Linked DNA regions of Homo sapiens: region 2 is linked to region 1. Evidence: fine-mapped expression QTL. Tissue or cell type: whole blood. Region 1 holds a variant in brackets; the other region holds the start of a gene. All regions are shown on one strand. Distances are from middle to middle.

What was found. PIP is the estimated chance that this variant, and not a neighbour inherited with it, causes the effect.
Region 2: it holds the start of NADSYN1, and the variant in region 1 is fine-mapped to the expression of NADSYN1 in whole blood (TOPMed, PIP above 0.99). The same link has a PIP of 0.9 or more in aorta, blood mononuclear cells, tibial artery and visceral fat.

What each region holds. Positions count from the first base shown.
Region 1 is chr11:71,482,717-71,490,820 of GRCh38, forward strand. It overlaps NADSYN1 (NAD synthetase 1), which reads left to right. Exons shown (of 21, transcript NM_018161.5): 14 at 133-301; 15 at 1,596-1,731; 16 at 2,826-2,932. Among named protein-coding and RNA genes, the nearest start is that of MIR6754, 13 kb to the left of the region's middle. RefSeq lists enhancers at 2,438-2,938, 5,226-5,996. The variant T/G (reference allele first, on the strand shown) is at 3,778.
Region 2 is chr11:71,448,978-71,457,081 of GRCh38, forward strand. It overlaps NADSYN1 (NAD synthetase 1), which reads left to right and starts at 4,226. Exons shown (of 21, transcript NM_018161.5): 1 at 4,226-4,404; 2 at 6,133-6,193. The coding sequence starts at 4,320. It overlaps DHCR7-DT (DHCR7 divergent transcript), which reads left to right. Exons shown (of 2, transcript NR_186309.1): 2 at 2,713-3,180. It also overlaps a transcript of DHCR7 not described here. RefSeq lists enhancers at 2,895-2,944, 3,065-3,144, 4,382-4,883, 4,884-5,383 and a silencer at 3,955-4,324.

The DNA.
Region 1 (8,104 bases):
CCGCACAGGCACCTGGGGGTGTAGACCGGGGTGGAGCCGCATGGGCACCTGGGGGTGTAGACCGGGGTGGAACTATGTAAACATCCCACACACTCAGGTGACTTCCACCCATTCTGTCCTGGTGGTTTTCAGATGAGGAAGTGCTGGCTGATGTCCGCACCATCGTGAACCAGATCAGCTACACCCCCCAGGATCCCCGAGACCTCTGTGGACGCATACTGACCACCTGCTACATGGCCAGCAAGAACTCCTCCCAGGAGACGTGCACCCGGGCCAGAGAGTTGGCCCAGCAGATTGGAAGGTAGAGTTGGTCCCTGGTATTGGGCATGGCAGGTGGCTGACAGAGCTCAGAGTCACTGGAAGCTCCGCCTGTGAGTGCATTGGTGACTGGCTTCATTCATTCCGCATCGTGTCATCCACTATGTGGATAAACGTGTAAGTGCTCCATCCCTTTTTGTGGGTGAATAATATTCCACTGTACGGATAGACCAGTTTGTTTCTCCTGTCATCAGCAATTGCTTAAATGTGCACCTAGGAGCTTATCAGGGCTCCACTTTCTCTTGGTTTGAGCCAGATTTCAGGGAAGCTGTGTGTGAGTCCTCCCTATCTGACCCACCCCAGTCTCAGATGGTGCCTGCAATTTCTGCCCTTCTGTCCCCTCACTCCTGGCATTCCCAGTGCAGGCTGCAGGTCGTATGTGCTCACCAGGGTGTGCAGCAGGTCCTGGGAGTTGGCTGCAGGCTGGCTCCTACCCCTCCTCCTTTCTCTTCCCCTGCCCTCACTGCCTCTTCCACGGGCAGTTCTCTATGTGAGGACAGTGGAAGGAGGGCACCTTTCCGGAGAAGAAAGACTGGGTTCTATCTAGAATATTCCATCCATAATGGCTCCTAGGAGAAAATGAGCAGCTCCCCATCCTGTTTGTTGAGCTCAGCTAAAAGCTGTCCCCATGCCCTCCAGTGATTCTCCTCCTAGATATGTACTCAGAGGAATCAGAAACAGGGACCCGAACAGATACTTGTTCAGGAAAGTCCATAGCAGCACCATTCACAGAAGCCAAGAGGCAGGGACAACCCAAGGTCCATCTCAGATGAACGGAGGAAGAAACTGTGGTCCATTCACACGGTGGAATATTAGTCACCCACGAAGAGGAGTGGAGCATGATCACATGACACAGTGAGGAGAAACCTTGAAGACATGGTGCGGATGAAGGGAGTGGAGCCAGCCACACCAGGCCACATGGTGTTTGATTCCATTTCCATTCCATTTCCACGCAATGTCCAGAACAGGCCATGGCATAGAGAGAGAGGGTGTCTGTCACTCTCTGCATCTGTCACTGTCAGAGCTGTCAGAGCTGGAGGAGGAGGGAGTGGGGACAGACTGCCAGTGGGATGGGGTTCCCTTCTCTGGTGATGGGAAGTTCTGAGCTAGATGGTGGTGATGGCTGCGCAGCACTGTGGATTGCTAAACACCACAAATCATACGCTTTAAATGGGTTACAATGGTCAGTTTTAGGTCATCAGGGCTTCACCGCTCATGCGCACACACATGCACACACGTGCACATGCTGCCTTCAACGCCTATCCTTCTCCTTCCAGCCACCACATCAGTCTCAACATCGATCCAGCCGTGAAGGCCGTCATGGGCATCTTCAGCCTGGTGACGGGGAAGAGCCCTCTGTTTGCAGCTCATGGAGGAAGCAGCAGGGAAAACCTGGCGCTGCAAAATGTGCAGGTGCCCCCGCCTGGGCCGGCGTCCCCTGGGGGTGGGGGTGCAGGGAGCACTGGGACAATCACTACAGGATGTGCAGGTGCCCCCACCTGGGCCATCGTCTCCATGAAGCTCATGGCACCGGTTACCTAGGGACAGCCAGTGCTGGGGTCACAGCCTGTATGCCTCACTGAAGACGTCGGTCATGCAGCCTTGTTAACAAGGAGGGGGTCTGTGTGTGTGTTGGTGCATGAGCATGTGATGTGTAAGAGCAAGAGCGGGGGTGTAAGGATGTGCGTGCTCGAGTGTGTGCATGAGCCTGAGTGCAAGAGCAAGAGGGTGTGTCTGAGCCTGAGTGTGAGCCTGAGCGTGAGAGGTTACATGAGTGTATGAGAGTACAAGTGTGTGAATGTATGCACAAGTGTGGGTGTGCTTGTGAGTGCTTGTGCAAAAGCAAGTGTGAGTGTGGATGTGTGAGTGTGCACAAACGTGAGTGCACAGTTGTGTGCATGAGTGCGTCTGCATGAGTGCACGAGCATGCCTGTGAGCATGTGGGTGGGTGGGTGTGCATGAGTGTGAGAGTGCACATGACTGTGTGTGAGTGTGTGTCTCTTTAATCCTCAGGGAACAGCCCAGACGCTGTCTGCCTCCTGAGCTACTGCACTTGACTGACTGCTCCGTGATGGGCAGAGGAAAAGAGAGGCCGGGGGCTCCAGCTGCTGGGATCTGTCCTGTCTCTCTCTGTCCCCTTTCTGCTGTGCCTGGGTGGCCTCTCCCCTCCTGCCAGTGGTAAAGGGATGGAAATGCAGTTGCCAAGCTTTCTCCCAGGGACCCCACGGCTCAGTCCTGCCACCAGTGCTCCCTCTGCCCTCCCGGGCTCTGGGTGCTCCCATCTTTGAAGGCAAGGCACCACTGAGCTTGTGTGAGCCCTGTGGAGGTGGGACCACCCCGAGAGGAAGGCCTCGGGACACTGTGGGACTCTGAGACTCTGATGTTCCCCGAACGCTAGAGAGCTCCTAAGCTATTTTAATTTTCTTGTTTTCAAGAGTTTGTGGGTGTGCGTCTCCCCCGTGTTCCTTTGCAAGGGAACCCGTTATTTCCTCTGTTGTGTTTTCCAGGCTCGAATACGGATGGTCCTCGCCTATCTGTTTGCTCAGTTGAGCCTCTGGTCTCGGGGTGTCCACGGTGGGCTCCTCGTGCTGGGATCCGCCAACGTGGATGAGAGGTGAGTGTGGCCCAGTGGCACGTGGTGGTGGGCCCCTGAACCTCTCAGGTCTCTGAAGGTGATACGCTGTGAGATTCTATCATCCTGTGCCTTTCATGGCGGGTTTGGTGCCTGGAATGACATCATTCCTCTAGAATTTCACCCAACCCGAGTGGCAGAGCGGATCAGCATCACGTTCCTGCAGGTGGCTCTGGGCGCTCACCACTTTCATCAGCCTTGTGGTTCTTCATCTCTACTGCGCCTCAAATTCATCTTCCCACCGCCCTCTGCCATGGTCAGGCTCCCCTCTTTCTTCTAGGCTGTTCCACTGTGTCTTAAGTCATTCCTTTGCAGCTAGTTTTTACCTCCAAACCAGAGTTCATTTTTTATGTGGACTGAAAATACTCCCCTTCTCATATTGCTTCCTTGTTCAACAAAACTCAGAGCCTCCCTGTTGTTTTCTGGATAAAATTCAAGCTGCCCCTCAAGTCCAGCAGTGGAGGCTGCTAGAAATTCTTTTCCAGCCTTGGTTTCCCCACTTCCCTTAGGTGAGCCTCTATCCCTCTCAGCTCGTCTGTGCTGTTCTTAGTTGCTCCTTAGGAGCTGAGGGATTTCAAAAACTATTTGTGATTTATTCATTTGTTTGTCTATGCATCCATCTATCCATCCATCAGTTGGGCCATCCATCTATCCACCCATCCATCCATCTGTCCATTCATCTATCCATCTATGTATCCACCCATCCATATATCCACTCACCTGTCCGTTCATCCACCCATCTGTCTGTCCATCCATTCATCCATCCATCCACCCATCCACCCATCTGTCTGTCCATCCACCCACCCACTCACCCACTCATCCATCCA[T/G]TCATTCACCCATCTGTCTATGCATTCATCCATCCATTCATCTACCCACACATCCCTCCACCCACCTGTCCATCCATGCATTCATCCACCCACCCATCTATCCATTTATCCACCAATGTGTCTGTCCATCCACCCATCTGTCCATCTATCCACTCATCTATCCATGTATTCATTCACCATTTCATCTGTCCACCCAACCCATCCATCCACCCATCTCTCCCTTTGTCCATCCATCGACCCATCTGTCCACATTTCCTCCCTTCCATCCATCTATCCCTCCCTTTTTTCTATGGCGTGAGTGTCTTTTTTTTTTTTTTTTTTTTTTTTTTTGAGATGGAGTCTCGCTTTGTCACCCAGGCTGGAGTGCAGTGGCGCGATCTCGGCTCACTGCAAGTTCCGCCTCCCGGGTTCACGCCATTCTCCTGCCTCAGCCTCCCGAGTAGCTGGGACTACAGGCGCCCATCACCACGCCTGGCTAATTTTTTTGTATTTTTAGTAGAGACGGTGTTTCACCGTGTTAGCCAGGATGGTCTCCATCTCCTGACCTCGTGATCCGCCCACCTTGGCCTCCCAAAGAGTGTGAGTGTCTTAATCACTCTGCATCCTTGCCTGTCTGCAGATGTGTTCTCTTTTAAAACTGATTTTTTATTTTTAAGTCCTATTTTATTTTTCTAATTACAGAAATTTGAAATTAACACCTGATACTGTGTAAAAATTCTCATCCTCCTCATGCATATTTTGACCATTGCTTTTCTGGTGCCTCTGGTGCCTTTGTAAGGGACTGATTTTTCAGGAGGGGTGTGACGGCTGGTGTATATTCTCAGCTCTGGTGTAGTTGAGGAGATTGATGTTTGCTTTGGCTCTGCATTGCTTTTGTAGATGAGGAAGAATTTGATCTGTTATAAAATTGTGTTGTAAGAGTTCCCCCTCACAACTCTTGTCCATCATTTTCTAGTATTTAAAATGTTAACAAAGAAACAAGTATTTTTTTCCAGGGTGGGATTGGGTTCTGGGAGCTGGAAGGTCTCTAGATGCCATTTAGAAAATAAACAAACGGGCTGGGCACAGTGGCTCACGTCTGTAATCCCAGCACTTTGGGAGGCTGAGGCAGGCAGATCACAAGGTCAGGAGATCGAGACCATCCTGGCTAACACGGTGAAACCCTGTCTCTACTAAAAATACAAAAAATTAGCCGGGCGTGGTGGCAGGTGCCTGTAGTCCCAGCTACTTGGGAGGCTGAGGCAGGAGAATGGCATGAACCCAGGAGGCGGAGCTGGCAGTGAGCCGAGTTCGCGCCACTGCACTCCAGCCTGGGCGACAGAGCAAGACTCCGTCTCAAAAAAAAAAAAAAAAAAAAGAAAAGAAAAGAAAATAAGCAAACGTAAACGTAATCCCTCAGCTGCCCCTTTCTCACTGCGGGACAGAAGGCCCTGTGGCTGCAGACACTCCCCTCATGATGTAGTACTGAAGCCCTTCTCTCTGTTTCCCATGCTGCATCTCCCTCTGCCGCCTTCTTCTCACGGGTCACAGCCAGTCCTTCTCTTCCTCTGTGTTCTGGCAAGAATCTCAAATGTGTAGTGTTGATTTTTTTAAATTTCCCTGTAATTCTGTTGTTGAATTGCTTCTGATTCTAGTTCAGTCGCATCCCTGTCTGCTCATCAGGGGCCTGTTGGACACCTGTCCTCCCTCAGGCTTTCTTCCCGGTGGTGTGAATGAGTCAGAAACAATTCCTGTTCTCTGCAAGTGGGAGGAGACAGTGATAGCCCAGCAGATAACATGTGTATTGTAGGAAACGTCCGCCGAGAGAGCTCAAGGAGGGGAAGGGAGAGCTGGGAGTTTGTAAGCAGCTTGCCCAGGGAGGGCCCTACTGAGAAGTGGGTTTCATAAAGGCCTGCGGGAGGCGAGGGTGGGTGGAGAAGAGCCCGTGAAGCCCTGAGTCATGACTCCCCCAGGACTGAGAGCCCATCATTGTCTCCCTGAAAGGCCTGGTCTTGAGTGGGGACTGGAAGACCTGCAGAGCTGTTTTGGAAAGTGTGCGGCGTGTCGGGCAGAGGGAGGTGTGAGACGTCAGAGACAGCTGTTTCCAGAAATTTCACTTTGAAGGGGAGGGGAGGCGCAGGATAGGCGCTGCAGAGATCACTGGGAACAGGAAAAGGAGTTTGCTTTATTATTAGAGACAGGGTCTTGCTCTGTCACCCAGGCTGGAGTGCAGTGGCACCGTCACAGCTCACTGCAGCCTTGACCTCCTGGGCTCAAACAATCCTCCCACCTTAGCCTCCCAAGTAGATGGGACTGTAGGCATGCACCACCACGCCTAATTTTTTTTGTTTCCACTCTGTTGCCCAGACTGGTCTCCATTTGTTTATTTGCCTTAAGATACTGTCAAGAAAAGACCAGTAGAGAGGGAGTGGACTTGCTGGTGCAGGACAGTGGGGATGTTGCTGGTGAGGAGATGAGAGCAGGTGACCAGGCAGGAGGGTGGCTTTGCTGGGGGCCTGGCCAGCGCGCCCACAGCAGCAGGAGGGGTGGGTTCAGAGGCAGGCCCAGGAGAAGGTTCCAGAGAGAGCAGGAGGGGAGGGGAGAGTGAAGCCAGCCCTGCAGGGTTAAGTTGGGGTCAGCATGGGAATGCAGAGCTGAGAGGCTGTGTTGAAGTTAGGCTTCTAACAACATGATTTCAGCTGATGGAAGTGACCAGCCTGGGGGAAAGGTCCATGCAGAGTGCGAGAGGAGGGGACAGCTGCTGGAACTCGGTGGTCCTGTATTGAAATTTATGGCCACACTTGTTGCTGGCTTCAAAGTCTCACCAGTCCGCCAGTTCAGTCTTGATTTCACCAGAAAAAGTCTGCCTCAATTTTCCCCCTATAACCGTGCCTCCCCATCCCCATGGTCCCCACTTCCTGGCTGGAGTTTCCTTCCACCAAGATGAGGCAGCATCCTGGCCCCACGGGTCGCAGGTTGAGCTGAGCTCTGCACTGCGGGATTTCCCCAGACTGTGCTCTCTGAGTCAGCCCCGGCGGATTTCCCCAGTCCTTGGCAGTTACTGGGGATGGAAGAGAAAAAGTGCTAAGATGGAGACTGTCATCTCCCCTGGCCCATCTGGCCCGTATCCCAGCTCCTGCTGAAGGAGCTTTGGACGGGACAGGACAGGGAGCGATGGGGTGACTGGGGTAGCCCTCACTGAAGGCAGCACAGGGTCTCACCTGTCCCTCTGTTGGGACCCTGGGGGTCTTACACCCCCGACATTGCACCACAGTGAGGGTCAGGAAGGGTGAGAAGGCACGGAGGTGTGAGTTTGGGAGTGTCAAGAAATGCATCTGGTGGGATAGGCAGGGGCCAGCCTGGAAGGCCTTGCAAGGTCAAGGGCACCATTGAGGGAATTCAGACTGTGGAAGGGCTTGGCCTGGCCTGGTATGGAGGAGATGGGTGGTCAGCCAGGAGTCCCGTGGAGAACCTGGAGGCCTGCACCAGCGTTGGCAGCGGGGTGGGGTGGAGAAGGACGGCTGTAACCCAGGATCACAAAGTTTGTGCCTTCAACAACACACATTTATGGTCCCTCAGTTCTGTAGGACACAGGTCCAGTATGGGTCCCCTGGCTCAAGTGAAGGTGTGGACACAGTGGGTTCCTTCTGGAGACCCTGGAGAGAATCTGTTTCCCGCCATTTCCAGCCTCTGGAGTCCCGCCTTCTTTGGCTCACGACGCCTCCTCCGTCTTCACCACCAGCGGCCTCGCGTCTCTGCCTTTCCCCTGCAGTCAGGGCTCCCTCAACTCTCACTTTCACCCCCTTCTTTTAAGGACCCCTGTGATTGCATTTCAGGCCCACCCTGCAATCCAGCATCACTCCCACATCTCAAGTCCCCAGCTGAGTCCATCTGCAAAGTCCCTTTGGCCCTGAGAGGTGACAGAGTCACAGGTTCTGGGGATTAGGACGTGGGCACCTTAGTGAGAGATGGATTCTTCTGCCGACCACAGGCCTCAGAGTTGACAGGCAGGGGAGGGGCCCGCGGCCGCCCGGGCAGCAGAGTGTCCACGTGTGTCCAGTCCCTGCTCACTCCCGACACCCCAAGACCTCTGTCCCTCAGCTCTGTTCAGACGACTGCTCCCAGCTCCGTGCTGGTGACCCCCGAAATCTGCCTGCCATCCCCGGCGTCTCCTCTGGTGCACTCAAAGGCCCTCCTGGGTCCTCTGCAGCCTCTGCCACCTTTGCGGGTTGCTCTGGGACTTCTCCGGGATGCTTGAATATGCCACACTTCTGGCTTCAGGGCCCCTGGAAGAAGCGACTCCCTGGCTGGCCAGGGTTGATGGAGTCTGCGGCCCCTTGGGAACCCG
Region 2 (8,104 bases), 34 kb before region 1:
CACCTGTGCGAGGACGGGAGGGGAGGGAGCAGCAGGACTGGGCAAAGGGAGAAGCTGAGCCACAGTGCGAGCCGGACGCACGGGCCACGTTGCGAGGGCATGACCTGGGGCGAGGCAGCCCTGGAGGAGGGGGCAGCTGAAGGTGTCTGCTGACCCCACACCCAACAGCTCGGGTAACAGGCCTTACTGTCAGAGCGATCTGGTTGCCACGTCTCTGTGGCCCTCAGAGAGACATCATGTTTTCTTTTTTCCCTGCACCTTTTTGTTTTGAAAAATGTTCAGCATACAAACAAGTTGAACGTAAAGTGAGCACGCAGATTCCTAGGTTCAGCAGGGGTGAGCAGCTGGCCACGTTTCATTTCTCTCCCTCTGTGTTTATATATGTGTATTTTTCTTTTTTCCTCCCCACTCAGCCCCCACCATTAGCTGCAGATACCGTGATACCCCCCTCCCAAATACTTCGGTATCCAACTCCTTAAGAACAAGAACCTCCTATATTACCAAAATACAATGACCACATCAGTTCAATGCTGTTATCTATTTTCCATCTCCAGTTTCCCGCGGTTGTCCCAATAATGCCCTTTACAGCCCTTTTGTTATTGTTGTTTTGTTTTGCTTTGTTAAGACGGGGGTCTCTGTCACACAGGCTGGAGTGTAGTGGCACGATCACAGCTCACTGCAGCCTTGAACTGCTGGGCTCAAGCGATTCTCTTCCCTCACCCTCCTGAGTAGCTGGGACTACAAGAGCACACCACCACACGCTATTTTTTTTTTGGTAGAGATGGGTGGGGGGGGGGGTCTCACTATGTTCCCCAAGCTGGTCTCGAACTCCTGGGCTCAAGCGATCCACCCACTGTGGCCTCCTACAGTGCTGGGACTACAGGTGTGAAGCTCTGCCCTACAGCCCTTTTTTAAACCCCAGGATCTAATCAGGGAGCCACACTGTGCATTCAGGCTATGCACTTTTTTTGGCAGGATAATATACTACATAGAGCATGTTTTATCTTGTTAGAAGGCTGTCAACCTGAAATAACCAAACAGGTCAGAATTTAGCTTAAAGAGAGTTTATTTAAGTGTATAAAGTTTGAGGACAGGCTGCCTGGGAAGCACAGATTTTAAAGAATGGAAATCAGTATTTTGAACTGTAGATGTTTGGGATCATTTATGTAGACAAATTTTAGGGAAGTTTAACAGAATTTTAACATCTTTTTATGCATAAAGTTATAATCTGACCAGCTGAGGTGGTCTTTTTTAGGTGGAAGGTATATTTAACATTTTACACTGAAGATGTAGGAGTCTGGTCTAAGTACGGGATAATAAGAGACAATCTATAATAAAGATCAGTAATTAAAAGGGGAGCAGGCCTGGTCTGTGGTCTCTCCTAGTCATTTATAAAACATGAATGATAAAGAAAAACAGCCTATAATCTAAAAGACAAAATTACAAACATGCTATGTGACCCAGTTTCTAGGACTTAACTTCCCTCTTGACATAATAAATTTATTTATTTTTATTTATTTATTTAAAGACAGGATCTTGCTCTGTTGCCCAAGTTGACCTAATAAATTTCAAGAGTCCTAAAATTTTCTTTTTTAAGACAACATATCACTGTGCTCCATGATTGATAGTGGGGCTCCGTGGTTTCTGCCAGAAGTCTCCATTTTTCCTTTTGTTATTAATGAGTAATTGGTGCAGTGATACTTTGAGACTGTAAATATGCTGTTCCCAAATGACCTTTCACCCAGTGAACTAGCATTTAATGAGGAATCTTGCCTGAATCCCTTATTTCTTGGGACAAAGTGTTAATTTTCTAATTTTATCATTCCCTCAACATTTATTAATAAATTATTTATTAGCAAGCATTCTTCTGTAGGGATTTCCTCTTTGATTTATTTTTTATCAGTATGCCCTAATGGATTTAGCTGACCGAGTTATGATCCTTACTGTATTGTCCTGTATTTAGCTAACGGGAGCCCCTTCAAATTGGCTTCTTTTTTCATATGACATGTATCTACCATCCTTTGAGTACTTACTTATTTTCTGGGACAACCAGATGTTCAAGGATCCTCCCCTTCTCTGCCCAGGCCTGGCATCAGCCATTGTTGGCAGGAGATAATTTGAGCAGATCGTGTGGATTTCAGAAGCATGAAAACTACTGTGAGGATTAAATAAGTTAGCATGTATAACATTCTGGTGCTTTTGTGGAGTTTCCAAATTGTCATGAACAAGCACTACTTTATAGACAGGAAAAAAAGTGATTCAAAATGTGAAAACGGGTATATGTACATAAGGTAAAAATAAAATCCTAAGCCCCCCATTGACCAAAGGGACCTTCTCCTGACCAAGGGGACACCAGAAAAACCTCAACACTGAATTCCCAGACATGATGGGATGGGAGGTCAGATGCGCCTGGTAATAGCCCCCTGTTTCAGAGTTTGGACACCACAACTGGCCGGCATTCATGTTAAAACAGAGATCGTAAGACTGACAGAACGGACTCTGTGGCAATAAGATACCAAATTATAAACAGGACCCAAAGCCATGCTAGGCGAGGGTAAGTCAGGCAACCCACACTTAGAGAATAAACTATATTCTAAGAGCCACAAGGCTTTCTGTTTCTCTATTAGCCAAACACACACTAGCCTTGGGATAGGGAATATTAAAACAATTGCAGCTCCACTAGGTGCCAACTAACTGACTCTGTTTCACCAGCCATAGCAGCTGTGATTGGACAAGAGACTGATTTCAGTGACTTTCTCCTAATAAGAGACCACCGACCAGCTGACCATGCCGACCAGCTGACCCGTTAATAGAGAGAGATGATGCACCTGCATGCCTTTGTGTCCTGAAAAGACGTTTTGCCATAAAGGCCCTAATTGTAAGATGTGTAAATGTTAAGTCTCCACCCCAAAGTGAACATGGGTCATATATTACATGCTTTGCTCAATAAGAGGGCATGTGTCAGGACCACCTTCATGAATATTCATAGCTCCTCCTGTTACCTGTTGAATATGTATGTTTAGCCAATCCCTTCAGCATAGCGCTCCTGCCCCAACCCCTCCTCCTTGGACGTGCCTGTCTCTGGCCTTGGCTGGAGACAGATTCCCAGCCTCAGACAGATGGCCGCCACCTTGCAGGCTACGACCGTTTACAAGAAATAAAGCCTTCTCTTTTTCCAAATTTGTGAATTGTGTGTTTTTAAACTAACATGAATGACAGAAGGAAGGATGGCCTCTTCAAGCAACGATGATGAGGCAGTTATTTATATGGGGGAAAAATGGATTCTACCGTGGGTGGACTAAAGAGGAAATGTGAAAAAATAAAAAGTGAGAAACCGCTGGTAGTGAATCGGTGCAAGCGCCCTGGAGAAGAGACTTGGCAATATTTAGTAAAGTCAAACAGCACGAACCCTACTACTCTGCAAAGCTGCTGCAGGAACTGGCGGAACGAGGTCACGAAGGAAACCTTGCCGGAAAGGAAATTGCAGCAGTGCCTGTGTGCGTGCGTCTGTTGGCAAAACGCTGCTAATAACGTCAATGCCCATCCGCTATTGAATAAACCTGCTTTACTGCCACTATGGAATACCAAACTGCAGAAAAATAATTAAAAGAACGTATCTCATATTACAGGGGAAAAAATCAAGTTGCAGAAGCACATTCAAGTGCAGTTCCTGTAGTTTCAGAAAAGGCAAACAGTGCGCTACCTGAGCTACTTACACACGTGGTACAGGAGTGAAAGGGGCAGGAGAGGGTTCCCAAGAATTCAGCGCCATCCGCCCAGGGTGGCGGGATTCCCAGCACGGAGAATCGATTGCTATCGTCTGCTGTCCCGCGGGCACGATGGAGCGCTCCTACCGTACTCTCCACTTTTGGTGTATTTGGAACGTTTCATGCCGTATTAAAATAAAACATGGCTAAGCTGGATGTGGGGTGGCGGTGTGGGATAAAATAGAGGGGTGCTGCAGCTGGGCGGTGAGCCCCCTGCACCTGTGCACCTGAACGGGTTTGCCCGCAAGGGCCGGGCCGGGGCCGGGGCCTGGGACGTGGGTGGAGCCGGGGCGGGGGCGGGGCCCTTCGCGGTGCCGTGAACGCTGAGGCCACCTCGCTGCGCAGGCGCGGTCGTGAGCTCCTCAGACGGGGCGGGGCGATCCGTAGGCAGGGCCTGACGCCGCAGTCCTCCTTGGCCGGAGCCTCAACGGATGGGCGGGGAGGGGGCGGGGCCGGGCAACCCGGAAGGTCCGGCGTCCCAGCCGCCTACCTCGCTGGGACCCTGGTCTTGCTGTCCCCCGCTGGCCTCCTGCCCAAGCGACTGCGGCCAGGATGGGCCGGAAGGTGACCGTGGCCACCTGCGCACTCAACCAGTGGGCCCTGGACTTCGAGGGCAATTTGCAAAGAATTTTAAAGAGTGAGTCTGGGGCGGCGGGGGCACCGGTTTGGGGTGGCGCACGGGCACCGTGGCTGGGCCCAGGCTTGCCCGTGGCGTGCTCACAGCCTTGCCCTGGGAAACTCTCGGCCCTGGGCATGGGATCAGGTGAGATAATGGGCAATGACCCCGCCAGTGGTACGTGCTCAGGTCCTCGTCGGGAAGTGAGTGTTTATAGTTCCCGGGGACGAGCGATATACAAGGCACGGTTAAGAAAAGTCTGGCGGCTTAGGCGGGAGGCCTGGGGATGGACCCGTGTTCTGATATCTCTGGGGTCCCGTGGTTGGGACTGAGCTGCCCATTCTCGGAGATATCTAAGTTGAACAGAATGGCTGCGCACTGGCGGGGATGGTGTGCAGAGGCCAGAGATTGATGGTCTCTGGTCCCCGTGGGCCTTCCTGGTGGGAGAAGGCGTCCCAGAAAGGGAAGTAGAAAAAGACGCCTGTCATCCCAGCATTTTGGGGGGGCCGGAGGGGGTGGAAGTCACCTGAGGTCAGGAGTTCAAGACCAGCCTGGCCATCATGGTGAAACACCGTCTCTACTAAAAATACAAAAATCAGCCGGGCGTGGTGGCCTCGAAGATAGGGTGTGGTTGTTGAAAGGTCACCATCTAATTTTCGTTCATATGGACGCACCGTGGAGGATGAAAAGTTAAACTATTACACCTGCACCTAAATGGGCAAGCCTGCAGGTGTAGTCAGGTTGCAGCTTGTCTTGCACTGGTCTGCTGACTGCAAGAGCCTTTGCCAGGAACAATAGAAACAGAATGTTTCAAGAGATGGCATCTAATCAGTATGTGCCCTGGATTATTATTATGATTATTATTATTTGACATGGACTGTCACTCTGTTGCCCTGGCTGGAGTGCAGTGGTGTCATCTTGGCTCACTGCAGTCTCTGCCTCCTGGGCTCAAGCGATTCTCCTGCCTCAGCCTCCTGAGTAGCTGGGATTACAGGCGTCTGCCACCATGCATGGCCAATTTCTGTATTTTTAGTAGAGACAAGGTTTCACCATGGTGGCCATGCTGGCCTCGAACTCCTGACCTCAAGTGATCCACCTGCCTTGGCCTCCCAAAGTGCTGGGATTCCAGGCATGAGCCACCGCAGCCAGTGGTTTTTTATTTTTATTTTTTAAATATCAACCTGCTTTCACCTCATTTGCTCAGAGCAAATCTAGTTGAACTGAAGAAGGCTTGGCCAAAACTAAGTTTCCACTCTGCCAGCCTCTCCTCCCTAGGTGCTTGTTGGAAGCTGCTGCCCAAGACCAGTAAGCCGATGGTGCCTGACAGTGGCACCACTGCTGGATCGTAATCCTCTAAGTCCTTTTTCCTCTAGATGGTGTTGGGCATTTCCTTGTTAATAAACTACCAGGGTCTGACTTCTTCCTCTTCCTCCGCCTCCTCCATGGTGCTAAGGGTCAGACCTGCAAGCCCTCCCTGTTTCTCATTTCCTGCAGATATAAGCAGGTATATGCAAGTATAAGCAGGTGCAGGCGTACTCGTGTATACAGGTGTATACAGGTGTATGCTGCCCTCTGCTGCCATGCTGTCAACAGGAAGCCTGACTGCATCCCGTCTGGGAAGGCACAGAGCATTTTTGTTTGTTGTTTGTTTTTTTTTTTATCCTACCTACTGCAGCAGGTTGTTTCATCTGTCTTTGAGTGTATAGGTGCTGAAATTGCTCCATTTTCTTTTTCTCTCTGTACTTACAGGTATTGAAATTGCCAAAAACAGAGGAGCAAGATACAGGCTTGGACCAGAGCTGGAAATATGGTGAGAACAGACACAGACACCCTGGGGTCGTCAGCTAGCGATACCAGCATCAGTTTTCCCCAGCTGAGAAGGCAAGGAAGGAGCAGGGACAGTCCTGAGAGCTGTGGACACGCCACACCCACTGTTGGGCCTGGTTAATGCCATTGAACACCTGAGCAAGGGCAGGCCCAGGGAGGCTGAATAAGTCTAGATTCCCATGTTGAGTAATTAAAAGAACTGACTTTTACCAGATGAAGGCCAGTTTCAAAGTTGGGCTGCTTCTGTGTTACCACTGCCCTTTTGCTGTGGTCTGAATGTTTGCGTCCCCACAAAATTCATATGTTGAAACCTAACCCCCAGATGATGGAATTAAGAGATGAGGCCTTTGGCAGGTGATTGGGTCATGAGGGCATGAGAGTGGAGCCTGCATGAATGGGATTAGTGCTCTTACAAGAGAGGCCCAAAGGAGCTTGTTGGCCCCTTCTACCATGTGAGGACACAGAGAAGGAGACAACCAGTCCTTACCAGATACCAAATCTGCCAGCACCTTGATCGTGGGCTTCCCAGCCTCCAGAACTGTGAGCAATACATTTCTGCTGTTTATTAATTACCCAGTCCAAGGTGTTTTGTTATAGCAGGCTGAAGGACCAAGACATATTCCCAGGTTTTCATTCCGTGATCTCAGAATCTTTCCACAAGCAAGCATAGGTTATCGTTTCTTATATGCCTTTTTGTAAAAATCAGGAAAACTGATTGCTTATTTCCCTTCTTGTCCCTTCAAAAACAAAAACAAAAATGAAAACAAAACAATGAGTAGCCACGTTGTAAGTCTCTTGTAAGCGATAGTCCTTTCTCATTTTGGATGTCAGCTGCCATCTGTGCTCTGCTAGTTTCCCGTTGGTCTTTAGGCCTCTGACCCGTTGTGGGATCTGGAAGTTCCTCTTCAGTCTTTGTCCCCTGCCTTAGTGTGTGTTCTTGCTTCTGGACTTAGAGTAAGCAGGAACTGTCTTCTCTTAGGAGGTTTTGTGTGAGTCCAGAGGCATCTTTCTCTAAGTCCTTCCAAGTTTCTTTCCTTCATTAGATTGATTTCTCTCCTTAGAATACCACCTTCAAATAGGGCTGTTTCTCCCATAATATCCAAGAATGTTTACTTTGTTCTTTAATTTGTCTTCATTTGATTGATTCTTTAAGAAATTCTTCACCTAAGTGCCAAGGGATCTAGGGTTCTGGGCTGTCTGATATCACAAAGCTTCGATCCTCTCCTGGCCCCGTGGCCGGATCTTCTCCTGGGCTGGACTCAAGGCCTGATCGTCTCGTGAGCCTGACCTCTCCTGGGCTGGTCCGGGGGCCTGATCCTCATGTCCTGTCTGCTGCTTGCCCTGGAGGAGCTGCAGTGGTGACAGCCCAGTCCCCCTGGCCTGATGTTGCCCAGATGCTTAGAGTTTACGTCTTCTTTTCTTTCTTCGTCCTAGTCTCTCTCTCCTATAAATGTTACATCCACCTCTCTCTTTCCTCCAAATATGGACCTGTTTCATTTTAAAAGTGGGAGGATGTCTAACTAAAGGCCCCCGGGATGGAATATTTGCATCCAGCAGGGACAGGGGCCCAGCTGAGCAGGTCTCCAAGTAGCTTACAACCTGCTGAGCAGGCTCCTGTGAAATATTCCAACAACTTACAGAGAGGAAACCGAGGCAGGAGAGGAGGGACATCACTTCACTGAGCACACCGCCTCTTGTTCTTACTGGTTAGAGGTCCAGCACCTGATACACAGGGAGGGCCCAGTGGCCCTAGAGCAGGCTGACTCATGGACCAGAGACCCTCTCACCTAGAAAAGTCAGCAGTTTCCTTTGAGCTGGTGCTGGAAGCTTTGGAAAGGGAAGGCTACCACCCAAATGGCCCCAGGACCAGCTCCTGCTGCTGACTCACCGAAGG